Homo sapiens: one gene and its partners. The protein of the gene in region 2 purifies or fractionates together with the protein of the main gene of each other region. This does not show direct contact. Each region holds a gene or a part of one and is shown on either strand. Other genes may lie near its edges. The genes, in order: PCF11, PHAX, FAM20B, SPATS2, YTHDF2, USF2 and ZNF148.

Region 1 (3,500 bases), on a different chromosome or scaffold from region 2:
TGCTTATAATACTATAGTGTTCCTCTGTAGAGAATACATGGAGAATGGTATTAAGAAATTTGTATGTCTCTTCTTAATTGAAGAAGTAAGTGAAGTAACTGCTCAGCCTCCCCCTGAAGAGGAGGAAGATCAAAATGAAGATCAAGATGTTCCAGATCTTACTAATTTTACAGTTGAAGAATTGAAACAGTATGTAATCTAATTTTCTTTAAGATAAAGAGGCAGTGACTTTAATAACACTGTTATAGTGGACATTGTTACTATTAGTGCTTTCCCTTTCCCTTTATCCCTTTTACTGTTTTAACATTTAGGAAGTCTTTTTTTTTTTTTAATGTGGTAAAATATACATAACATAGTCTTTGGGAAGCCTATTTTTAAATCGTCTTTTAAAATATGTCTGCTGTACAAGTACTTGGGCCAAAGGCCACCCCCAAAAGTCTTACTCTGCTGCCCAGGCTGGAGTTCAGTGGCGTGATCCTGACTCACTGCAACCTCTGCCTCCCAGGTTCAAGTGATTCTCCTGGGATTACAGGTGTGCACCACCATACCCAGCTAATTTTTGTATTTTTAGTAGAGATGGGGTTTCACCACGTTGGCCAGGCTAGTCTCGAACTCCTAACCTCCAGTGATCCACCTGCCTTGGCCTCCCAAAGTGCTGGGATTACAGGTGTGAGCCACCACACCTGGTCCCTCAAAATTTTCATTTTTTAATCTGTGATACAGAAAACTTAGGGAGTTTAAATATTAGGTATTGATAATTCATGTATTCCTGTTTAGTTTCATTTTCTGTGTATCATCATTTTTTCTGTATTGATATTCTTAACATTTTTGAGGTTCAGAAATGAGATTTTCATAGTTCAGCATTTACAATTAAAAAAAAATCGGCTGGGCGCGGTGGCTCACTCCTGTAATCCCAGCACTTTGTAAGGCCGAGGCAGGTGGATCACGAGGTCAGGAGATCGAGACCATCCTGGCTAACAAGACCATCCTGGCTAACATGGTGAAACCCCGTCTCTACTAAAAATACAAAAAATTAGCCGGGCGCAGTGGCGGGTGCCTGTAGTCCCAGCTACTCGGGAGGCTGAGGCAGGAGAATGGTGTGAACCCGGGAGGCGGAGCTTGCAGTGAGCCGAGATAACGCCACTGCACTCCAGCCTGGGCGAAAGAGCGAGACTGTGTCTCAAAAAAAAAAAAAAATCTATTTTTCATTTTATAAGTAATGTTAATTGTGGAAAATTAGAACATACTATAAATAAAATCAAGAAAACGTACAACTCTCACTTTATGGATAACAACTGTTAACATTTGGTGCATATCTTTTCATAATTTTCTATTGTATTATAAAAAACATTTAAAGATTTTTCTAGTGAATAAATTCATTAATCCTGTGAGTACTTTATAAAAAATAAAATAGTGAATGAGTTTTTCACTCTTAAAATCATTTTTTAAATTTGAATTAGATACTATAATGTAAAATCCTTTTTTTTTTCAAAGTAATACTTTCACATAAAGGCTTTTAATAAAAGATGGCATCCCTTTCTCCTTCACCCAACACTGTACCCTAGAGGCAATCATTTTATTTTTTTAACTTTTCAAACTATTTTTTCTGCCATTTACCTCTTTTTCCTTTTTTTTTTGAGACAGAGTCTCACTCTGTCACCCAGGCTAGAGTGCAGTGGCCCTGTCTTGGCTCATTGCAACCTCCGCCTCCCAGGTTCAAGTGATTCTCCTGCCGCAGCCTCCTGAGTAGCTAAGATTATAGGCACCCATCACCACGCCCAGCTAATTTTTGTATTTTTAGTAGAGATGGGGTTTCATCATGTTGTCCAGGCTGTTCTCGAACTCCTGGGCTCAAGTCATCTGCCCGCCTCGGCCTTCCAAAATGCTGGGATTACAGGTTTGAGCCACCTATTTCTTATAATACACATAATTTTCTGTTTCTTGATTTACCACATCTGGACATAATCTCTTAACTTTCTGAAAGTGATTTAGGCTGGGCGCAGTGGCTCATGCCTGTAATCCCAGCACTTTGGGAGGCTGAGGTGGGCAGATCACCTGAGGTCAGGAGTTCAAGACCAGCTTGGCCAACATGGTAACATGTCTCTACTAGAACCTGTCTCTACTAGAAATACTAAAATTAGCTGGGCGTGGTAGTGGGCACTTGTAATCCCAGCTACTCGGGAGGCTGAGGTGGGGAGAATTGCTTGAACCCAGGAGGCGGAGGCTTTAGTGAGCTGAGATCGGGCCACTGCACTGCATCCTGGGTGACAGAGCGCGAGACTCCGTCTCCAAAAAAAACGGGCGGGGGGTGGATTTAGCTAGCTCTTGTAGTGTCCTACTAACTCCCCTCCATGTAGTTATAAGACTGTTTTTTATTATTCAGTATTAATATTGTGACTAGATGTTTATTTTGTTGCTGTAACAAAGTACCAGTGTTCTGTTATTTGCTTTATTCTATTTTTTTTTTTTTTTTTTTGAGATGGAGTCTCACTCTGTGGCCCAGGCTGGAGTGCAGTGGCGTGATCTTGGCTCACTGCATCCTCCGCCTCCCGATTCAAGTGATTCTCCTGCCTCAGCCTCCTAAGTAGCTGGGATTACAGGCATGTGCCACCACACCCAGCTAATTTTTGTATTTTTAGTAGGGACAGGGTTTCACCACGTTGGTCAGGTTGGTCTTGAGCTCCTGACCTCGTGATCTGCCCACCTTGGCCTCCCAAAGTGCTGGGATTACAGGCGTGAGCCGCTGTGCCCGGCTATTTTTTTTTTTTTTCTTGGAGTTAATAACTGCTCTGTTTGTTCACTTACTTGGTCTTCTATATATACCTGTTTCTTCCCAAATAGGGAGCCCAGAATTTAAAAAACTAATTATTTGTTGACCACAGCAAACTAATTATTGTTTCCCAATGGTATTCTAAGTTTTCTCTTTAGTTATCCATACTATTATTATTTCTTCTGTCCTTTTTTCACTGTTACACCAGAGTGGAGAAGTTGAATTATTCAGAATGCCAAAGATCTAGAGAGGTGAAATTTAACTGTTCTGCCATGTCCATCTTGACTTGACTCCAAACTAAAATAAGCTAACTATTGCCTTGTTAGCTAGCACAGGATCATTTCATTTTTAGCTAAAAGGAAATAAATAACTGGGTCAGGGCTATCAATAAGAAGACAGGCTCCATCTTCCAAAAGTCACCAAAGTTAAGGTAAAGAGGGTCAATCACATTGTTAGAGAATAATACTGATCTTTGGGTATTAACTGTTTCAGCCAGCTCTTGGTTTCACCATTGTTACAGTATGGAAAATTGAAATATTTGTAATTGGCTTTTAAAGGCCATTAAGCCATATTATCAACACTAAAGATTATTTCTTTTTCAAAATAGACGTTATGACAGTGTTATAAATCGACTGTACACTGGTATTCAGTGTTACTCTTGTGGAATGAGGTTTACAACATCACAGACAGATGTTTATGCAGATCATTTGGACTGGCATTATCGGCAAAA
Region 2 (3,500 bases):
CAAAGTCCTGGGATTACAGGTGTGAGCCACCATGCCTGACCAATAAAATTTTATTATAGATCATTTATTTCAGATGCCACCTAAATGATGATGTTATAATTATTCTTTTAATTGCTATATTGCTAACAGTCACCATATGTAGAACTTAGAAGCCAGAACTTGACTAAGTTTGTTTTCCTGTTTTAAAATTCCATTTGGGTACATGACCTCACAATTAAGTTTTGTTTTGAAAAATACAAAGTTTTCTGAAGGAAAAAAGCAATAGTTAAAACTTTATTTGCTTTGTTCAAAGAAAAAAAAAAGCTCAGCTAAAACACTAGAGTTAGATCCTTAACTTGGAGAGTTAAGTATATATAGATATGGATGGGAGGGGGGAAATTTTCCCTCAAATTACCTGTCTGCATTTGTGATAAAGATATTAACAACATGTTGCAACAACATTTTGGGGACCATTTCCCACTTTGTTCTATTAAATTCATAACGCATGGGAATGAAGTTTGTTTTTATTTTGTTTATTGTTTATTTTTTTAATTTTTGAGACGGAGTCTCCTAGCTCTGTTGCCCAGGCTGGAGTGCAGTGGTGAGATCTTGGCTCATCCTGGGTTCAAGCAATTCTCCTGCCTCACCCTCCCAAGTAGCTGGGATTACAGGTGCCCGCCACCACGCCTGGCTAATTTTTGTGTTTTTGTTTGTTTGTTTGTTTTTTGAGATGGAGTCTTGCTCTATCGCCAGGCTGGAGTGCAGTGGCGCGCTCTCGGCTCACTGCAACCTCTGCCTCCCGGGTTCAGGTGATTCCCCTGCCTCAGCCTCCCAAGTAGCTTGGATTATAGGCTCGCACCACCATGCCCAGCTAATTTTTTGTATTTTAGTAGAGATGGGGTTTCACCATGTTGGCCAGGATGGTCTCGATCTCCTGACCTCGTGATCCGCCCGCCTCAGCCTCTCAAAGTGCTGGGATTACAGGCGAGAGCCAGCAAACCCAGCCTAATTTTTGTATTTTTTTTTTTTTTTTTTTTTTTTTTTTTTAGTAGAGATGGAGTTTTACCATATTGGCCAGGCTGGTCTCGAACTCCTGACCTCAAGTGATCTGACCACCTCGGCCTCCTGAAATGCTAGGATTACAAGAATGCGCTACCACACCTGGCCAAAGTTTCTTTTTAATAAGGCTTGCCATATTTGGAGAGAAAAGGGCAGTTTCGTAAAATTTACTCAGTGTTACCAAGCATTATACTACTTAGAATTCTTAGCAAGATGCTTGGATATGCTTCCATATAAAATGAAAATGCTTCTACTGTGGCTTCTTCATATTCTTTGAATTAAAGGTAAGTGAACTCTTGGAAAAAATTGCAAATCATCACACTTTTGTGAAGGCAGTATAATAGATTTTAAGAACATTGGGCCGGGCGCGGTGGCTTACCCCTGTAATCCCAGCACTTTGGGAGGCCGAGGCAGGTGGGTCACTTGAGGCCAGGAGTTGGAGACCAGCCTGGGCAACATGGAGAAACCCCATCTCCACTAAAAATACAAAATATAGTTAGGTGTGGTAGCTCACGCCTGTAGTTCCAGCTACTCTAGAGGCCAAGGCATGAGAATTGCTTGAACCCTGGAAATGGAGATTGCAGTGAGCCGAGATCAGACGACTACACTCCAGCCTGGGTGACAGAGCCAGACTCTGTCTCAAAAAAAAAAGAAGAAGAAAAAAAATAAGAATGTAGGAGAAATCAGCAGCTACTTGGGATGCTGAGGCGGGAGGATTGCTTTAGTCCAGGAATTCGAGGCTGCAGTGAGGTATAATTATACACTGCACTCCAGCTTGGGTGACAGCGAGGCCCCATCTCTATCAAAAACTTTTAAAAAGGAGAATATTAGAGAAATCATATGTGAGTTCAGACTTCATACCTTCACATGGTAGCCCTGTAATCTTGTGCCTCATTTTCCACATCTGAAAACAAGGATAGTTAACTACCTCATAAGGCTTTTGTGAGGACGAAATGAGTTAATGTGTGTGTAAAGTCCTTAGCAAAATGCCTGGTACGTAAAAGTACTCACTTGATAACTGGTAGCAAGCCTCATTATATTCTGAATTTACCTTTGTCTTTTCTCACGTATGTACCCTCCTTCTCCCTCCTCAGTTCCTCCTCTTTAGCAAATACTTTTCTTATTTCTCTTCATCAAAACACTCATATTCTGAAGTTTCCCCTTACCTCTTCATTTCAAAGATCTTTACACCTTCCTCTGTTAATTCTGTGTGCTGCTTGTAACTATTTAGCATAAATTTTAGGAGAGAGTCTCCTTCATCCCACCATCTTCCATAGTGCTTTTTATAAACAAGAAGGGATTGGGATTTGTATTCTTTAAGAATATAACAGGGACTGGCTTGGCTTGAGCTTTTTGGAATCCCTGCCCAGGAGATAATAGGGTCCCAGAAGTGTGTCCTGCCTACACTAGCTTCTTTTTTAAACCTTTGAACCGTCTCTGTTTTAGTACAGGTTGACAATCCCTAATCTGAAAATCCAAAATGCTCCAAAACTTTTTGACTTTTTGTTTTGGTTTGGTTTTGGGTTTTTTTTTTTTTTTTTTGAGACACAGTCTCGCTCTGCTGCCCAGGCTGGAGTGCAGTGGCACAGTCTCGGCTCACTGCAACCTCTGTCTCCTGGGTTCAAATGATCCTCCTGCCTCAGCCTCCCTAGTAGCTGAGACTACAGGTGTGTGCCACCACAGCCGGCTACTTTTTGTATTTTTAGGAGAGACAGGGTTTCACCATGTTGGCCAGGCTGGTCTGCAACTCCTGACCTCAAGTGAACCACCCACCTCCGCCTCCCAAAGTGCTGGGATTACAGGCATGAGTCACCATGCCCAGCCTTCATTTAGGAAATTTTTAACTGTAGAGATGATACATTAAGGTAGAATAAGCATGGGCCCTAAACCTAACACTAGGCTGGGTTTAAATCAGTTTCAATCTTGCAATGAGTACTTACTTAATATCTTGAACTCCATCTTAATAATGAGCCTAATAATACTTGTATTTTTTGTAAGAAATGGAGATAATGATTTTAAAGGGACAGTCATGGAATAAACCTTTAATAACGTGGTAGTTCTTGTTTACTAACTTTGTTCCTTTATTACAGGACATTTTCTACATTGAAAACCAAAAGGAATATGAAAATAAAAAAGCTGCTAGGAAGAGGAGAACACAAGTGTTGGGGAAAAAGATGAAACAAGCTATTAAAAGTCTAAATTTTCAAGAAGATGATGATACATCACGAGAAACTTTTGCAAGTGACACGAATGAGGCCTTGGCCTCTCTTGATGAGTCACAGGAAGGACATGCAGAAGCCAAGTTGGAGGCAGAGGAAGCCATTGAAGTTGATCATTCTCATGATTTGGACATCTTTTAAGTACATTTTCAACAGTTTGAGGACTAAGCCTTTCTAAAATAACATTGTAATAAACCATTTTTACTGAGATTGCAACGTTTTGCACTGATAAACATGAGAATC
Region 3 (3,500 bases), on a different chromosome or scaffold from region 2:
CAGGAGTTCGAGACCAGCCTGGCCAACATGGCGAAACCCCGTCTCTATTAATAATACAAAAATGAGCCGGGCATGGTGGCAGGCACCAGTATTCCAGCTACTTAGGAGGTTGAGACAGGAGAATTGCTTGAACCTGGAAGGCAGAGGTTGCAGTGAGCCGAGATTGTGCCATTGCACTCCATTCTGGGTGACAGAGTGAGACTCTGTCTCAAAAAAAATAAATAATAAATAATAATTGGTTTTTTTAAAAAAACTCTGTATTAGAGAACAGAGAAATTGAAAAATGAGTCAAGAAAATGAGATAAAGTCTAAGCTCTAAGAAGCTTCTTTTCATCATTCCTGAAATAATTTTATTTTACTATTTTATTTTTTATTTTATTATTTTTTTGAGACAGGGTCTGCATCTGTCACCCAGGTAGGAGTGTGGTGGTGCGATCTCAGCTCACCGAAATCTCTGCCTTTCGGGTTTAAGCAATTCTTGTGCCTCAGCCTCCCGAGTAGCTGGGACTACAGGCACCTGCCACCAAACCCAGCTAATTTTTGTATTTGCAGTAGAGACGGGTTTCACTATGTTGGCCAGGCTGGTGTCAAACTATTGACTTCAAGTGATCCGCCTGCCTCAGCCTCCCAAAGTGCTAGGATTACAGGCGTGAGCCACCGCGCCCGACCATCCTGGTGTAATTTTAGAGCACGCACATCAAGAATTAGCTGGGATCCACCTTGCTTGGCTACACAGAAAAACAAGTTCAAGAGCACCATTTAATACTGGTCAGCTCCCAGCAACATCATATCACATAAGACTGCCATAGCAACTGGTCTCTTAATCTTCTTTCTTTTTTTAAATGACAACAAAATTCTGTAGAAAGTAACAGTTTACCCAGGCTGTCCTTCATTGTCTTTATTAATGATAGGAAGCAGTGATATATACAATCAAGAATTGTGTGTTTGTCTTTGAAGATGTTTTTGTGGTAGTAGTTTTATCAGTCTGGTTCAATCAGGAGATAGCAAAGACATAGTGTGATAAACAGAGGTGTTTAATATAAAGAATTTTTTTTTTTTGGAGATGGAGTCTTGCTCTGTCACCCAGGCTAGAGTACAGTGGCGCGATCTCGGCTCACTGCAGCCTCCACCTCCCATGTTCAAGTGATTCTCCTGCGTCAGCCTCCCAAGTAGTTGGGATTACAGGCGCCCCTCACTGCATCTGGTTAATTTTTGTATTTTTAGTAGAGACGGGGTTTCACCATATTGGCCAGGCTGGTCTAGAACTCCTGACCTTGTGATCTGCCTGCCTCGGCCTCCCAAACTACTGGCATTACAGGCGTGAGCCACTGCGCCCGACCCAATATAAAGAATTATTAAATTCCAATAACAGGAGTGACTATAAAAGGGCTGAGGGAGAGTACCCAAGGAAGGACAAACTTGGAAGGGGATCCCCTCCCAATGACTGGAGTTTGGACTTCAGTGGAGAAGGTTTAGCTCAGCCCACCAGATAGCAGAGAAGTTTGCTAGTTTGCAGGTGCTGAGCAAGCCAGAAGCAACTCTCCAGAGTGCAGGTGGGGTGTACATTCAAGCCACAGCTGGTGTCATGACATGCAGAAGGAGAGAGAGAATCCAGTAGAAACCTTCTGTGCTGCAAGTGAGGCACACACGTGGGCCTTCAGAGGGAATTGGGGCCAGGGTGAGCAGATGGCCTTCAAAGCTCTGGTTTCCATGTTGAGAGGGCCTCGGGAGAGTTATCCCCAGGCCAGGCTAAGGCTTCAGGTCACCAAGGACCCACACCTTCTGGGAGTGTGGCTAGACAGGTCTTCAGTGGATGACCTCTCTGCCTCCCCAACACCACCATTGACCCACAGAAGCATTTGGAGAGCCCCTTCACCCTGCAGTGTCCCCTTTGCGCCCTCTAGTGAGAATGCTTTAGGGGAAAGATGCTTAAAGGAATCCCATCCGTCGTAGCAGAGCACATTTTGTTTTTGTTTTTGTTTTGTTTTGTTTTTTGAGATGGAGTCTCGCTCTGTCGCCCAGGCTGGAGTGTAGTGGCACGATCTCGGCTCACTGCAACCGCTGTCTCCCGGGTTCAGGCGATTCTCCTGCCTCAGCCTTCTGAGTAGCTGGGATTACAGGCACCTGCCACCACGCCCAGCTAATTTTTTGTATTTTTAGTAGAGATAGGGTTTCAACATGTTGGTGGGGCTGGTCTCGAACTCCTGACCTCAGGTGATCCGTCCGCCTTGGCCTCCCAAAGTGCTGGGATTACAGGCATGAGCCACCGTGCCTGGCCAGCAGAGCATATTTTGAAGAGTGAATTTGGAGCTGAGAGGAAGTAACATAATAACTTAGTCTCACAGAGGAAGCTCTGATGCTCTGGGCATTTGTAATATATTTAAGAATAAAAATAACTGTACTCCGTCTGTGCCTGTTTGTCCCTTCCATGCATGCTTTATGCAGCAGTCTTTCTTACCTTTTAAATTGCTGCACAACAGGCTGCCTTTTACAGAATCAGACATTTCTGCATACCCAGTAATTCCTCCTTTACCCACAGAGAGCTAAGAACTTTTCTTCTCAGATTTTAAATAAAAGATATGCTATAGTTGGTGTCTTAGTTCGTTTTGTGCTGCTGTAACAGGATACCACAGACTGGGTAATTTATTTTATTTTATTTTATCTTATTTTGAGATGGAGTCTCGCTCTGTTGCCCAGGCTGGAGTGCAGTGGCGCGATCTTGGCTCACTGCAACCTCCGCCTCCCAGGTTCAAGTGATTCTCATGTCTCAGCCTCCCAAGTAGCTGGGATTACAGGCATGTACCACCATGCCCGGGTAATTTTTGTATTTTTAGGAGAGATGGGGTTTCACCATGTTGCCTAGGCTGGTCTCGAACTCCTGACCTCAAGTGATCTGACCCCTTGGGCCTCCCAGAGTGCTGGGATTACAGGCATGAGCCACCATACCTGGCCAGACTGTGTAATTTATAATGAACAGAAATTTATTGGTTCACAGTTCTGGAGGCTAGAACGTTAAATATCAAGGTGCCAGCATCTGACAAGGGACTTATTGCTGTGTCATCATGTCACATGGCAGAAGGCAAAAGGGCAAAGAGAGAGGGCAACAAGGGGCTGAACTCGCCTTTTTTTTTTTTTTTTTTTTTTTTTTTGAGATGGAGTCTTGCTCTTTTGCCCAGGCTGGAGTGCAGTGGCACAATCTTGGCTCACTGCAACCTCCACCTCCCGGGTTCAAGTGATTCTTGTGCCTCAGCCTCCCAAGTAGCTGGGATTACAGGCACCTGCCACCACGCCCAGCTAATTTTTGTATTTTTAGTAGAGACGGGGTTTTACCATGTTGGCCAGCCTGGTCTTGAACTCCCAACCTGAGGGCCCACCTCGGCCTCCCAAAGTGTTGGGATTACAGATGTGAGCCACCGCTCCTGGCCTTGAACTTGCCTTTTAATAACAGCATTAGTTCCACCCATGAGGGCAGAGCACTCATGGCCTAACGACCTCTTAAA
Region 4 (3,500 bases), on a different chromosome or scaffold from region 2:
CAGATAAATGCGGTACGTGCAATAGTTCCTAATAAGAGCAACAATGAAATTATCCTGGTTTTGCAGCACTTTGATAACTGTGTGGACAAAACAGTACAAGCATTCATGGAAGGTAATCCTGACTTAATTTTAAAAATAAATTTATATTTGCTCAAATAGAATTTGCTTCAGACTTTTATAACATTCAGCAATCCAGTGATTCATAGATGATAGAGCAGACCCCATGAAAACATAACATACCATGACATTTGACGATACCTCTTTCAGCTGAAATAAGCTATGTGGTGTCTATAATAAGAGATAAGCTGAGAAAACTCCATTGTTTCACGCTAAATGTTCTCTAATGGTATTTAAGAGGAAATCATGTGGCCAGTGGTATAAGGGACTTGATTGGACTTGGGTTGAATAAGAATTTAAGAGACTCTTAATAACAAAGCAGTGATTCAGTGGCTCACCAACAGATGGCAAATTCAAGGACTCAGTATTGTCTTCCGGATTCTAATATCGTTAGTTTGGCTGTGGCAAGTGACTCAAATGTGTGGGTTTGAATTTCCTTATCTAATACGTAGAAGAATGGCAGGCTTAGTCAACCCTTCAGATTTATAACATTGAGAAGTGTTTTATGAACCTTCCTTCCATGTAACCTGTTGGAGAAAAACTATCTGAAGCTATTGCGTCTTTGAATAGCAACATGAGGTTAGGTCTCCCTGTTTTTATTTTCCTGAATCTGCCAACATAGGATGCACAAGTTTGAATGTTGTAAAGTTTTTCTTTATCTTCATCTTTTTAAAAAATAATGTTAGTGTTTTGGTCTAGGGTAATGTGCAGCTGTCTCCAAAACAACATAGCCAAGGTGGGTGTGTAACTGGAGGGGAAAGGATGGCACACTTGGCTAAAACCAGTGTGCCATCCCCTTTGTATTTGGTCTAAGATGTATGGATAAGAGAATCTTCAAAATGGCCCAGCTACATTAGTCTCTTCTTAGAAGAACTTACTGAGGAAATTACTCGGAGAGGAGGGGTCTAAGTAGGCAGGTATTCCAAAAGGGAAGCATGGCATGATTATCTCATTACATTACTTTAGACCTGATCCTTAACTTTAACTTTTCTGTTAGGAGCTTTGTAAATTCTCCAGCAATTACAAAATGGGAGGACACTGACTCCTGCTTGACTACTGTGTGTGTGGTAGGAGACAAAATCTGTAATTGGTTTCTCTTACAGGTAGTGCCAGTGAAGTACTCAAAGAATGGACAGTAACAGGCAAGAAAAAGGTAAAATGAATTACATTTAAAAGCATGATGATGTGTATATTATTTTTAAAAATTTAGGCTCTGCAAAAATATTTGAAAGAAAAGGTTCACATACATATCTTCTGTTTACCTGGTTAAAAAACATCTTTGGCCAGGTGCAGGGGCTCACACCTGTAATCCCAGCACTTTAGGAGGCCAAGGCAGGTGGATCACTTGAGGTCAGTGGTTCAAGACTAGCCCGGCCAACATGGTGAAGTCCCGTCTCTACTAAAAAATAGAAAAAATTAGCCAGGTGTGGTGGCACGTGCCTGTAATCCCAGTTACTCAGGAGGGTGAGGCAGGAGAATAACTTGAACCCAAGAGGCAGAGGTTGCAGTGAGCCGAGATTGGGCCACTGCATTCCAGCCTGGGTGACAGAGTGAGACTCCATCTCAAAAAAAAAAAAAAAATTCTTCGACCTTGAAACATAGCTGTGTCTCACAGAGTACCACACAGTCCTCTCCGTGTGATTTAAGGCAGGAAACAGAATGACTTTGCCATGGTGCAGTTATTAGACGGGTGAAAAAGACAGCAAATCAAGGAAAGCAAGAGAAAGCGATCTAATTGAGTGGTTTTCAACCATATTCATACCATAAATCAGTTAAAACAGTTCAGATTTTTGGTCGGGCAACTGGGTTGTAGTCCTGATATTAATGAGCTTTGACATAAAGCTGTTAGGTGCTGGCCAGGCACGGTGACTCATGCCTGTAATCCCAGCACTTTGGGAGGCTGAGGTGGGAGGATCACTTGCGCCCAGGAGTTCAAGTCTGGGCAACATGATGAAACCTGATCTCAAAAAAAAGGCTATTAGGTGCCTTGCAGAGGGGTCTGATGTTCCACTTTGAGAGGTAGAAAGCACTCAGGCTATGGGATCAGTCAGAACTGGATTCCTACCCTGTTCCACTATCTACTGGCATTGTGACTGATATTGCTTAACATTTGTGCCTTAGTTTGCTCATCTCTAAAATAGAAAAATAGTTCTAATAAATACAAATACATAATACAACGCCTAACATATTAGTTCTCGTTCCTTTCTCCTTATTTACTTAAAATCAGATGCTTTTCCCAAAGGATACCAGCTGGTCTCAAAATTCTTCCCACAGCTCTGCACTGTAAAGGTAACCCCTTTAGGAAATGCTTGAAGTATGGATTTTAATCAAGTATCTCTGTGAAATCTGTTTGGGGTGTTCTTTTCTTTATTAAGTCAGTGCTGGAGTTCTGAAATGCTTTCATCATGACTCTTACATCACTTTTTAGGAGTCCTGTCAGGTCTTGAACAAAAACCAGGCTTGGCCTCAGTGACGCTTGAGAATTTTTTCCAAGGGTTACCTAATACTACACAGATTCTTCTGAAGCTCTTCATACCTGTAGTTTTGAATATTTGTTTAACTTCTTCCTGCTGCTTTCAACCTGTTACATAGATAACTGTGAGTGTCCTGGAAAACACCAGTTTCTTTTTTTTCTTTTTTCTTTTTTTTTTTTCTTTTTGAGATGGAGTTTTGCTCTGTCGCCCAGGCTGGAGTGCCGTGGCGCGATCTCGGCTCACTGCAGCCTCCGCCTCCTGGGTTCAAGTAATTCTCATGCCTCAGCCTCCTACGTAGGGCGGGACTACAGGTGCGTGCCACTGCGCCTGGCTAATATTTGTATTTTTTAGTAGAGACAGGGTTTCACCATGTTGGCTAGGCTGGTGTCGAACGCCTGACCCCAAGTGATCTGCGCACCTTGGCCTCCCAAAGTGCTGGAATTACAGGCATGAGCCACTGCACCCAGCTAACACCAGTTTCTTAATTTATTAGCCCAGGATTATAAGTTACTAGTGATATAAGATGTGCATGGACCTGGAAGAGGATGTGTGTTAGAGACACAGACATTCCTTAAAATTTGGAGAAAGAAATATGACTTCAGTTTAGCAGTCCCAAATGCACAAATCCAGTCCAGTCCACTTAACTGTTGGGATTAGTCCAATAGGATGTGACTCTGAGTGGGATAGTTATGATATACATGACCCAATGATATGAAAACTTAGCCAGTTCACATGGGGGAAAGTAAGAAAAAGAAAGATGAGGCCGGGCACGGTGGTTCATGCCTGTAATTCCAGCATTTTGGGAGGTCGAGGCAGGTGGATCACTGGAGGTCAGGGGATTGAGACCAGCCTGGCCAACATGGTGAAACCCTATCTCTACTAAAAATACAAAAAAATTAGCTGGGTGTG
Region 5 (3,500 bases), on a different chromosome or scaffold from region 2:
CTGAAAGGTCAAGAAATTTATAAGTTCTGAACGTATGCTGTATGAAACATAGTTGGTAGTCCTGAATAACTGCATGCCCATATATGGATCTGATTATCACATAAAACTTGTAGAATCCCTGTGTAAAATTTTCAACACTGAAAGTATAGAAACCACTTGAGCAAGTGATTGGAAAAAAGTTTTCACAAAACACAACCAGTTAATCAGGAAAAGTAGGGAAGGAAGTAGAGGAATGAACTATTAATAGGTTCCTGCTATTGAAGTAGTTTGCTTACATAATCATTATAACAGGGAGAGTTGGAGCATTTAGAAGCATAATTCTAGGTAGTTCTTGTAAAACATTGTGTAATTCAAATTTTTTAGCTTGAGCATGTGGGAGCCTGCCAGTTCAGGTACAGACATTCAACTGTGTCTTGGCATAACCTGTGATATTAAGTGCATTTGATTTTTCTTTCTCAGGTAAGCCAAAGCTTAAATGTCTTTGTTTAAAAAAAATTTGGCTAATAATATAAATCTTAGATGAGTAGATGAGGAAGGGTAACCTGAGAATCTAGTTCATTGTCTAGAGTAAGTCATCTACTTTTTAGCCAATTTTTCATTACCCTATTTTGGAATAATACTTCAAGTTTAATCTGTTGATTATAGGCTGAATTTCTTATATATGTGGATTTGGGTCTGCTAAAATTTTTAACCTTACCTTTGTGAGAAATTTTAAATGTGAAAAGGGTATGTGTGAAAAGACCTCACTTTTGTTTTTATGTATTATTTATTTATTTATTTTTGAGATAGAGTCTCACTCTGTCACCCAGGCTGTAGTGCAGTGGTGCGATCTCGGCTCACTGCAACCTTCACCTCCTGGGTTCACACCATTCTCCTGCCTCAGCCTCCCGAGTAGCTGGGACTACAGGCGCCCGCCACCATACCTGGCTAATTTTTTGTATTTTTGCTAGAGACGGGGTTTTAACTGTGTTAGCCAGGATGGTCTCGATCTCCTGACCTCGTGATCCTCCCACCTTGGCCTCCCAAATTGCTGGGATTACAGGTGTGAGCCACCGCGCCCGGCTATTTATTTTTTTTGAGACGGAGTCTTGCTCTGTTGCCCAGGCTGCAGTGCAGTGGTGCAGTCCGGCTTACTGCAACCTCTGTCTCCTGAGTTCAAGCAATTCTCCCACCTTAGCCTCCTGAGTAGCTGGGATTACAGGCAGGTGCCACCACGCCTGGCTAATTTTTGTATTTTTAGTAGAGACGGGCTTTCACCATGTTGGCCGGGCTGGTCTCCAACTCCTGGCCTCAAGTGATTTGCCCGCCTCAGCCTCCCAAAATGCTGGAATTACAGGCGTGAGCCACTGTGCCCGGCCTGTTTTTATTTTATTTTTTTGAGACAGTCTGGCTCTGTTGCCTGGGCTAGAGTGCAGTGGTGCCATCTGGGCTCACTGCAACCTCGGCCTCTTGGATTCAAGTAATTCTACCGCCTCAGCCTCCTGAGTAGCTGGGCCTACAAGTGTGTGCCACCATGCCTAGCTAATTTTTTGTCTTTTTAGTAGAGACTGGGTTTTATCATGTTGGCCAGGCTGGTCTCGAACTGACCTCAAGTCATCCACCCCTCTGTCTCCCAAAGTTCTGGGATTACAGGCGGGAGCCACTGCGCCTGGCCATATTTCTCATTTTACATCCTCCAGAAACCACTGTGCATTTCCTTTTCAGGTTATAACTGAGTAGTGGGATCTATTGATATTCCCAGATAGTTTGCCAAGAGGCTAGCACTATAAACTGGTAGTGAACCTTGCTTTTTGGTTTATGATTGAGGAACGGCTGTACAGACATTTGGGCTAGAACTTGAAATTTCCATTTCTTTTTGTTATTCTTGTTTTATTATCACCTGGTTTGTATAGGAAGTTGATAAAAGGATTATCTCAACACTCAGGACTTAAACAGTTTGTGAAATGCTAAGTTTTCTCTTTACTTAGTTGTAGTGCTAAAGCTAAGGCCCATATTCACTGTATCAGCTTAACTTTAAATGTTTAAACATTTCAGTTATTACACCAAAATTTCTTATGATATAAAAAATGCCCTTGTGTTTATAGGAAATCATCTGATGTGCTGCACACTTTTTTTTTTTTTCCTGGAGATGGAGTTTCACTCTTGTTGCCCACAGGCTGGAGTGCAGTGGTGCGATCTAAGCTCACTGCAACCTCCGCCTCCTGGGTTCAAGTGATTCTCCTGCCTCAGGCCTCCCAAGTAGACAGGGTTTCATCGTGTTGGCCAGGTTGGTCTCGAGCTCCTGACCTCAGGTGATCCACCCGCCTCCACCTCCCAAAGTGTAGGGATTACAGGTGTGAGCCACCGCGTCCGGCCTGCACACTCCTTTTTATAGTATATTTGAATTGCGTGACTAGGTGGGGGGAGGAAATAGCCTGATGTTAATTTTTTGTGTTTTGATTTGCCTTTTTTTTTCTTCCACAGAATAATGCATATACTGCCATGTCAGATTCCTACTTACCCAGTTACTACAGTCCCTCCATTGGCTTCTCCTATTCTTTGGGTGAAGCTGCTTGGTCTACGGGGGGTGACACAGCCATGCCCTACTTAACTTCTTATGGACAGCTGAGCAACGGAGAGCCCCACTTCCTACCAGATGCAATGTTTGGGCAACCAGGAGCCCTAGGTAGCACTCCATTTCTTGGTCAGCATGGTTTTAATTTCTTTCCCAGTGGGATTGACTTCTCAGCATGGGGAAATAACAGTTCTCAGGGACAGTCTACTCAGAGCTCTGGATATAGTAGCAATTATGCTTATGCACCTAGCTCCTTAGGTGGAGCCATGATTGATGGACAGTCAGCTTTTGCCAATGAGACCCTCAATAAGGCTCCTGGCATGAATACTATAGACCAAGGGATGGCAGCACTGAAGTTGGGTAGCACAGAAGTTGCAAGCAATGTTCCAAAAGTTGTAGGTTCTGCTGTTGGTAGCGGGTCCATTACTAGTAACATCGTGGCTTCCAATAGTTTGCCTCCAGCCACCATTGCTCCTCCAAAACCAGCATCTTGGGCTGATATTGCTAGCAAGCCTGCAAAACAGCAACCTAAACTGAAGACCAAGAATGGCATTGCAGGGTCAAGTCTTCCGCCACCCCCGATAAAGCATAACATGGATATTGGAACTTGGGATAACAAGGGTCCCGTTGCAAAAGCCCCCTCACAGGCTTTGGTTCAGAATATAGGTCAGCCAACCCAGGGGTCTCCTCAGCCTGTAGGTCAGCAGGCTAACAATAGCCCACCAGTGGCTCAGGCATCAGTAGGGCAACAGACACAGCCATTGCCTCCACCTCCACCACAGCCTGCCCAGCTTTCAGTCCAGCAACAGGCAGCTCAGCCAACCCGCTGGGTAGCACCTCGGAACCGTGGCAGTGGGTTCGGTCATAATGGGGTGGATGGTAATGGAGTAGGACAGTCTCAGGCTGGTTCTGGATCTACTCCTTCAGAACCCCACCCAGTGTTGGA
Region 6 (4,202 bases), on a different chromosome or scaffold from region 2:
GTCCGGGGACCTCCCCTATGATGGGCGGCTACTGGAGGAGGCTGTGAGGAAGAAGGGGTCGGAGGAGAGGAGGAGACCCCACAAGGAGGAGGAGGAAGAGGCCTACTACCCGCCCGCGCCGCCCCCGTACTCGGAGACCGACTCGCAGGCGTCCCGAGAGCGCAGGCTCAAGAAGGTGAGGGCCGCCCTCCCTGGCGTCCAGACCGTCCCTGGGCCCCCAGCCGGTCCCCGCGGCTCATACCCTTCTTTCTTTCTCCCTTGCAGAACTTGGCCCTGAGTCGGGAAAGTTTAGTCGTCTGATCTGACGTTTTCTACGTAGCTTTTGTATTTTTTTTTTTAATTTGAAGGAACACTGATGAAGCCCTGCCATACCCCTCCCGAGTCTAATAAAACGTATAATCACAAGCTCTGGAGAGAACCATTTGTTCGGCCGCGCGGGGCGGGGGACCGGGGCTGCTCCCGTATGCGTCTGTAAAGCGCCGCGTCCCGGGGGCACCGGAGTCCGGGGCCGGGAGGAAGAGACCCAGCCTGGCCCGGCCCGCGCCCGCGCCGCCGGCCGGAGAACGTGCCCCGCGCAGCCGCCGCCCGCCTGCGTGCGCGCCCCGGCCCCGCCCAGGCGTGCGCATGCGCCCCGGCCCTCCGCCTTCGCGCACCGCAGGCTGGCCGTCCGGGACGCGCGCGCGCTCCTCTCCCCTTCCAGCCCATCCCCCCCAGCCCCCCACCGACCTACTTTACTGTCTCCAAACTCGGGCAGCCCACCTGGCCCCCGACGACCCCAGCCCCTGCACCGGGTACCCCGACGTTCCATCCAGACCCGCGTTTCACCAGGGCGGCGCGCGGCGACCTCGCGCCCCGCGGAGCCCCGGGCTCGCGCGCGCCCGCCCGCCCCCGGAGACAGACCAGCGCGCGCGCCCCGGGCCGCCTCCCCCCAGCGCGCGTCCGCCCCGGGGCTCGCGCCGCCGCCGCCGCCGCCGCCGCGCGCGCGCAGCTCAAGTAAAGGAGGAAAAAAAAAAGGGGGAAAAATAGAAAGCGGCGGCGGCTGCAGCAGCGATCCGCCGCCGGACTGGGCCAAGCCGGGCGGCGGCCGCGCGAGCCGGCGATCCAGGGCACTGGCGGCGGCCAGCCAGGGCGGGCCGTGTTCAAAAAAAAAAGTCGCGGCGGCGGCGGCTGCTCAGGGAAGGAGGCCTGAGGGCCGCGTGCAGCGGGCGGGCAGCTGGGTGGGCTGGGGGCGGCCGCGCGGCGTCCCGGAGCCTCGGGCCGCCCGGAGCCGGCGGGCGGGCGGAGGCGGAGGCGGCGGCGGCTGCAGCGGCTGCAGGAGCGGCGGCGGCTGCGGCGGCGGCGGCGGCATCTCCTCCTCACATGACCCCACTGTTTGTCCCCGTGATCAGCGCGAGCGGCTCCCGTATCTCCTCCGTCCCCTCCTGCCGCGCGGCGTGAGCGCCGGGCTCGGGGCCCCCCCGGCCGCCCGCCCCCTCCCCTCCCTCCCTCCCCTCCCCTCCCCTCCCCCCCGGGCCCCGCGCCCCCCCCGCCCCCGCCCCCCCCATGGACATGCTGGACCCGGGTCTGGATCCCGCTGCCTCGGCCACCGCTGCTGCCGCCGCCAGGTAAGATCCCCGGCCCGGCCGTGCCCCCGCGCCCCGGCCCCGGCCCCGGCCCCGCGGCCTGCAGGCCGGGGCCGCCATGATCCCGAGCGGCCGCGGGCCCGGCTCAAAATGGAGGCCGCCGGCGCGGGGGGGACCTGGCGCCTCCCGCCCCCGGCCCCCGGCCTCGGCGGCGCCCCCGGCCTCAGGCGCGGCCGGGTGGGACTGGGGCCCTGCAGCTGGGCGCGGGGGCGGGGGCGCGGGCGCGGGCCGCGCTGACCCTGCTCCCTCCTGTGCCCCTGGCAGCCACGACAAGGGACCCGAGGCGGAGGAGGGCGTCGAGCTGCAGGAAGGTGAGTGCTTGCCGGGCCGGCCGCGCCCGGGGAGGGCTGGGGGCGCTCGGCGCGGCCCTGACCGTGCCCCGACCCTCCTCGGCCCCAGGCGGGGACGGCCCAGGAGCGGAGGAGCAGACAGCGGTGGCCATCACCAGCGTCCAGCAGGCGGCGTTCGGCGACCACAACATCCAGTACCAGTTCCGCACAGAGACAAATGGAGGACAGGTGAGCGGCGGGCCGCGAGGGCGAACGGGCGGGCGGGCGGGCGCGCCGGGAAGGCTCGGACCTGGCCCCAGCGCCGGCCTCGCCGCTCTGCCGCCCCCTGCAGGTGACATACCGCGTAGTCCAGGTGACTGATGGTCAGCTGGACGGCCAGGGCGACACAGCTGGCGCCGTCAGCGTCGTGTCCACCGCTGCCTTCGCGGGGGGGCAGCAGGCTGTGACCCAGGTGGGTGTGGACGGGGCAGCCCAGCGCCCGGGCCCCGCCGCTGCCTCTGTGCCCCCAGGTCCTGCAGCGCCCTTCCCGCTGGTAGGTGCCCTGCCACCCCTGGGTGGGGGGGGGAGGGAGTGGAGAGGGGACACTGGCTCTGCTCTTGGGGAGCCCCGGGGGTGGGGCAGGTGTCGCCCAGCGGATGCTGCCTTCAGGCCTCAGGCTGCATGGGGCCAGATCCCTGTTGTGCACCGTGAAACCTGGGGACAGTGCTCTTGGAATTTTTTTTTCCCGCAAAATGGGAATGATGTGTCTTAAGAGGAAAGTTTCTTAGAGTGCGAAACGGATTTGCTCAGCAAGTGATCGCTGACCTCCCGCCATGTTCCAGGGCTGTTTGAAACACAGGACAGAATGCTACACGCAGAAGGAGTCCCCACTCCTGTTAATTGCAGAGAATGCAGTAAACCCCAAGCACAGCAATGAGGGGACGGGATGGAGGAACAGAGAAAGCTAAGGGTAGCCTCTGCCCTCCTACTCCCCAGGCTGTGATCCAAAATCCCTTCAGCAATGGTGGCAGTCCGGCGGCCGAGGCTGTCAGCGGGGAGGCACGATTTGCCTATTTCCCAGCGTCCAGTGTGGGAGATACTACGGCTGTGTCCGTACAGACCACAGACCAGAGCTTGCAGGCTGGAGGTGAGGAGTAGAAGTCAGATTGGCAGGTGGGGGAGGCAACGGGCCCAGCAGGGAGGGAAGCCCCCCCAGCCAGTTCTGACTTCACCCTGCCTTGCCACTAACCCCCCACTCTCCCTGCAGGCCAGTTCTACGTCATGATGACGCCCCAGGATGTGCTTCAGACAGGAACACAGAGGACGATCGCCCCCCGGACACACCCTTACTCTCCGTATGTGCAGGGGACACCTGGAGGGCCTGGTGTTGAAATGGAAGGAAGAGGGGTTTCTGGAGTAGAAGCTGGGCAGTTAGCATGAAGTGGGCACATGGTGTAATGTTTTTTTTCTTTGCCTGTTTCTGCTGCTCTAGTGCACATAAAGTATCATGTCTTTTGTTTTTGCAGATGGATTTACCTTGCAAAGATAATTTTCAAATCTAATACTTAGCAGATGCTTGGGCAAACAGCTCTGCGATAATACATGCCCCCTTTTTTTTTCCTCCTCTTGTAGAAAAATTGATGGAACCAGAACACCCCGAGATGAGAGGAGAAGAGCCCAGCACAACGAAGGTGAGGACAAGGTGTGGCTCCGGGTCCCCCTGACCACCACCCTCACAGGCTCAGCCAGCCCTGGAGTGTGGAGTGACAGAGAGAGAAGCCACTCCTGGGCAGGCCACAAGTGCTCCAGAGGGCTTTGCTGGACGCTGTAAAGGTAGAAAGTGAGCAACGAGGGGAGAGTACAGTGTCAGAAGTAGAGGGACAGGGAGTGTGAATTGGAACTGGCCATTTGTTGACCCGGCTGGTGATCTTGAATTCATGGCCCACATCTAAGATGGTGGACTTCACACTCCCATACGGATTGCCTGCCCCACTTGAAAAATGGGGCTGACCGGGCTCACGTGGGCTGACCTTTCCACGTGGCAGCTGTCATGCTCACATCCCGCACTCCCATGCCTGCCTGGCCTCCAGAAGTAGGTCTGTTCCCCCAGGGAGCACATCTGAGGGAGAAACTGCATGAAGTTCTGCCTCTGGCTACCTAAGGCCGGAGCATCCTGCCCTTTCCAGAAACACCAGGTCTCACCTCAGGTCATTTGGCCTTCAGCACTGTCCCGCCCCGCCTGTCAGTAGCCACTGCAGTGGGCACAGCACTGTGCAAGTGCCAGGAGAGTGCTTACACCCAAACAACCATC
Region 7 (3,500 bases), on a different chromosome or scaffold from region 2:
GGTTCATCAAATAAGGATGTACCTATGATTGAATCTTTAATTCTGCACAGTTAGAGTTTATATATAAACGTGTCTTGACAATCAAGGACTTTTATGTGAGTCTTCCTTTATGATGTTTATTAATGTTATGCATTCCATTTGTTTTGAAGTGAGTACCAATGTGCTAATTTGTATTGTCTGAAAGTATGTAATGTTTTTACAGCTTGTTTTTAAGAATCTGTAAATATGTACAAACAAATCACAGTACTGCTTTATGTTAGAAGGCATATGATGTTGTACTGTATGTAAGCAATAATACATAGCAGTGCTAACTTTACAAGTAGCATCAGGAAAGTTCTAAAAACATTTCAGAGTTATTAATTATCCTTATTTCATTTAATAATGATTATCTTTAATCAGTTTTTATAAGCAAATTCCATTGTTCCTCCTATTGGAACGTAACACTGTTTACACAGCATAATTGAAGTTGCAGGGGAGACAGGCTAAATCTGACTTCATCTGTACTCACTTTCACTAAGCATTGAATGGCCTTACCACTCTTCTGCAAGATGGAGGAAGACCGCAAAACTTAGTGCCCATCACACTGAAGGAAGGGATGTGGTTTTTTTTCCTGCTTCTGTACTGCTACCTAACTTTGTGATTTGCTTTGGATTTTAATATTTGTTTCTGTTTTAGATTCAAGCCCGTAAGTTTTGAGGTGACTTCAGCTCCATTGTGAAATAGATAGTTCTCTTCATATTTCATAACTACATTTCAATAATTCTAAACTTTCTACATTGATTTTTAGATACTTATTTTTCAAGCTTGGTTTCTCAGCTGATCAGATGAATTTATTCAACTTCAATACAAAGAAAGACAAACCTATTATAGTTTCAAGTGAGTAGATATTATACTGTACAGGACAGCTATTTGAACACACACATCACTGCTTTAGAAATAAAACCGCCAATTTATAAATGTATATGACCTACATTTTATAGGAAAAAATGTTTTTAAATGCTAGTCATTTATATAATGTGCTTTGAAGGATTTGCTAGTCCACTTCTGTCACTTTTTAGTACACTGGTATCTTTTATATGTAATGTATGCTTTTTATTATTGTAGCAAAGCATTTCAGTAGAAAGAATTTTGCAACAATATGGGGGAAATTTTTCATTGTTGGATTTGAATTATACTGGATTTTATCTGTGTAGTCTTACTTGTCTTTATTTTAATGCTGTCTGAAGGGAACTTGGTATCCAAATAAAGCAGGTAACCTCATTTTACTTCAAGGGCATACTGTGTAGTGCTGAATTTAATCTGAAAATCTGATGATTTTGAAAAGAAAAACAAGTTTATAAACATTGTACAGAAGAAATTAAATGTGTGTGATGGAAATCCTGATGGTGGAGCACGTTGAATTTTCTGATATATAGTGTTATTTTCCTGGGATCCCCTATGCCTTCTTTGTATTTCAACTAATAAAGGAAAAACCCTGTCATTAAAACTGGTAAGATAATAGGATATTCTGATTATACAGTATTACTATTCCTATCCCATTTTCTGACCTTTTCTCAATCACTGTAAATTTTTATTTTCTATTTCCTATTGATAATTAAATATGTACATAATATAGACACTGTTGTATAGAACTAAATGAATTGGGTTGCTATGCTTGAGTGGGTAGTGAAATGGAAATATTTGATGAATACTGAGAGTTCCTAAAATGCTAGAGCAAATTTCCGAGGGAAAGGGGGGCATCGTGTGTCTTGGGAAGGTTGCAGCAGGTTGTTTCTTCAACTCCCTAAGAAATCATTGGGAAGGACTCAACTGCAAACTCGGGATCAGATACAAAATGGGTCTTTCCTTCCCCTCTCCCCCAAAAAATAGGAGCACTAAATTTTAAAATCTACTCAGGTGACAGTTGCTTTGCAATGAAACTTATCACATTGAAATTTTCAGTGTTAAATAAAAAGAGATTTGTGATATTTTTAAATATAAACTTTTACATCAGTAGTCAGCAGCCTGACAATTGAAATTTGGTAAGTCGATATATTTTAAAATATTTTGCTCTCCAAATAGAATTGTTTTTAAACAATTGGGAGGTTTTTTGTTTCTTTAAATATGTTTTAATTGTCATTGTAAAAACAAAATCTTGCTTGACCCTATATTATGCCATGAATGAATTGCTGAGCCTTTATAATACAGTGACAGCTTGTTTCATGCATAGTCATGGAACATAGAGATGTTCTTTAAACTGACCTATTGATAAGAGGTTTAATGAGTTTCACGGCTTTCAACACTATTGTCATATAGTTATCTTTGCCATTTGGAGTTTATAAAACCATTTTATGTATTGTGATACTAAAGGAAGTTGTTTTGCTTTACTTTAAATTGAATTATTAGACTAATATTTGCAAATTCTGCATTTTAAATGTGGACACTGGCTGTTTGAAAAATAAAATATAGAATACAGTTTTATGGATAATTTTCGAGCTGAATTTTTCACAATATTCTGAACCAAATAACGAATGGTAAATATGCAAAAATCATGGTGCATAGATATAACCGTAAAGAGAAAAGAATTTCTGTGTGGAATTAACAGTTACACAAATTGGGTAACAATTATCAGGGCCTTTATTATAGCTTTATGTGGAATGTTATTCTAAAATGCAAGAGTCAAATGTTACTGTCATTGAATATTTTAGACTTGAAACGTGTTTATCATAGAGCGAAGAAAATATGTGTTCTTTTCTTTACAGATAAGACTCTGTTAACCCACTGTCAGCATACGTGGGATTTCTTTTCTTTTTTCTTTCATTAGTGGAGATTTGTTTTCATCCATCTACCACCTTGCCAGTACCCTAGCTTGTGACCAGCGGGATGCATTGTAAGAAAGTTGTCTGTGGTTAGGAGTGCAGTCTGGGTCCATGGAACAAATTTAAACTAATTGGCCCTCGCAATGATCAGTCCTAGGACCCTGGCCTTATTATTAGCATGGTGCTTTAACCAATTGTACATAATAATACCACTGATAGTCTACTAATGCATTTCCTAGATCCCAGTTTTTCTTGAATGATTAGGAATGGTGGGGAGAGGGGAGGGGAGATATTCTACATGATACTTCTCCAATCTTCTAAAGATTATAAGAAAAAATAAAAAATTGAAGTCACTTGAATTAATGTGTTGTCATTGAGTCTTACTCGACAATTTATCATGCACAAAGTGATTATGAAGATTTTCCTGATTATATGTTTGGATTGAATTTAAAAATTTTTTTTTTCAGAATGCTGGCTGTTCTGTTTTATTTCTTCTCTGGTGAACCTGATAGGATATAAATTATATTCATATGATGCATAAAGAATGAATGGAGGTGAAAAGTTTTAAGTGAACTAAAGCTAAAATTTGGGTCTCATAATTTTCTTTCTTTTGTCATTTTCAAGTGTAATTAAAAGGAACATTTTACCCAGACATTCACACAGCTGCATATGCATATGTGTAAGAGCTGGGATGTGAAATGT

The links.
Region 1: the proteins of PHAX (region 2) and PCF11 purify together in Homo sapiens (affinity purification with mass spectrometry; one large-scale study listed by BioGRID and IntAct). This does not show direct contact.
Region 3: the proteins of PHAX (region 2) and FAM20B purify together in Homo sapiens (affinity purification with mass spectrometry; one large-scale study listed by BioGRID and IntAct). This does not show direct contact.
Region 4: the proteins of PHAX (region 2) and SPATS2 purify together in Homo sapiens (affinity purification with mass spectrometry; one large-scale study listed by BioGRID and IntAct). This does not show direct contact.
Region 5: the proteins of PHAX (region 2) and YTHDF2 purify together in Homo sapiens (affinity purification with mass spectrometry; one large-scale study listed by BioGRID and IntAct). This does not show direct contact.
Region 6: the proteins of PHAX (region 2) and USF2 purify together in Homo sapiens (affinity purification with mass spectrometry; one large-scale study listed by BioGRID and IntAct). This does not show direct contact.
Region 7: the proteins of PHAX (region 2) and ZNF148 purify together in Homo sapiens (affinity purification with mass spectrometry; one large-scale study listed by BioGRID and IntAct). This does not show direct contact.

Annotation. Positions count from the first base shown.
Region 1 is NC_000011.10:83,177,631-83,181,130, forward strand, and holds part of PCF11 (pre-mRNA cleavage complex 2 protein Pcf11), read left to right. Parts: intron 1-30; coding exon of another isoform or gene 31-77; exon of another isoform or gene 78-83; coding exon 84-189; intron 190-3,377; coding exon 3,378-3,500. UniProt on the Homo sapiens protein: Component of pre-mRNA cleavage complex II, which promotes transcription termination by RNA polymerase II.
Region 2 is NC_000005.10:126,621,447-126,624,946, forward strand, and holds part of PHAX (phosphorylated adapter RNA export protein), read left to right. Parts: intron 1-3,128; coding exon 3,129-3,398; 3' UTR 3,399-3,500. UniProt on the Homo sapiens protein: A phosphoprotein adapter involved in the XPO1-mediated U snRNA export from the nucleus.
Region 3 is NC_000001.11:179,067,394-179,070,893, forward strand, and holds part of FAM20B (glycosaminoglycan xylosylkinase), read left to right. Parts: intron 1-3,500. UniProt on the Homo sapiens protein: Responsible for the 2-O-phosphorylation of xylose in the glycosaminoglycan-protein linkage region of proteoglycans thereby regulating the amount of mature GAG chains.
Region 4 is NC_000012.12:49,489,462-49,492,961, forward strand, and holds part of SPATS2 (spermatogenesis-associated serine-rich protein 2), read left to right. Parts: intron 1-3; coding exon 4-112; intron 113-1,220; coding exon 1,221-1,270; intron 1,271-3,500.
Region 5 is NC_000001.11:28,739,940-28,743,439, forward strand, and holds part of YTHDF2 (YTH domain-containing family protein 2), read left to right. Parts: intron 1-2,463; coding exon 2,464-3,500. UniProt on the Homo sapiens protein: Specifically recognizes and binds N6-methyladenosine (m6A)-containing RNAs, and regulates their stability. M6A is a modification present at internal sites of mRNAs and some non-coding RNAs and plays a role in mRNA stability and processing.
Region 6 is NC_000019.10:35,267,560-35,271,761, forward strand, and holds the start of USF2 (upstream stimulatory factor 2), read left to right. Parts: upstream 1-1,402; 5' UTR 1,403-1,542; coding exon 1,543-1,604; intron 1,605-1,886; coding exon 1,887-1,933; intron 1,934-2,021; coding exon 2,022-2,140; intron 2,141-2,243; coding exon 2,244-2,444; intron 2,445-2,887; coding exon 2,888-3,038; intron 3,039-3,158; coding exon 3,159-3,246; intron 3,247-3,523; coding exon 3,524-3,582; intron 3,583-4,202. Other genes in the region: LSR (lipolysis-stimulated lipoprotein receptor isoform 2 precursor), read left to right, coding at 1-175, 265-300.
Region 7 is NC_000003.12:125,225,326-125,228,825, reverse strand, and holds the end of ZNF148 (zinc finger protein 148), read left to right. Parts: 3' UTR 1-3,157; downstream 3,158-3,500. UniProt on the Homo sapiens protein: Involved in transcriptional regulation. Represses the transcription of a number of genes including gastrin, stromelysin and enolase. Binds to the G-rich box in the enhancer region of these genes.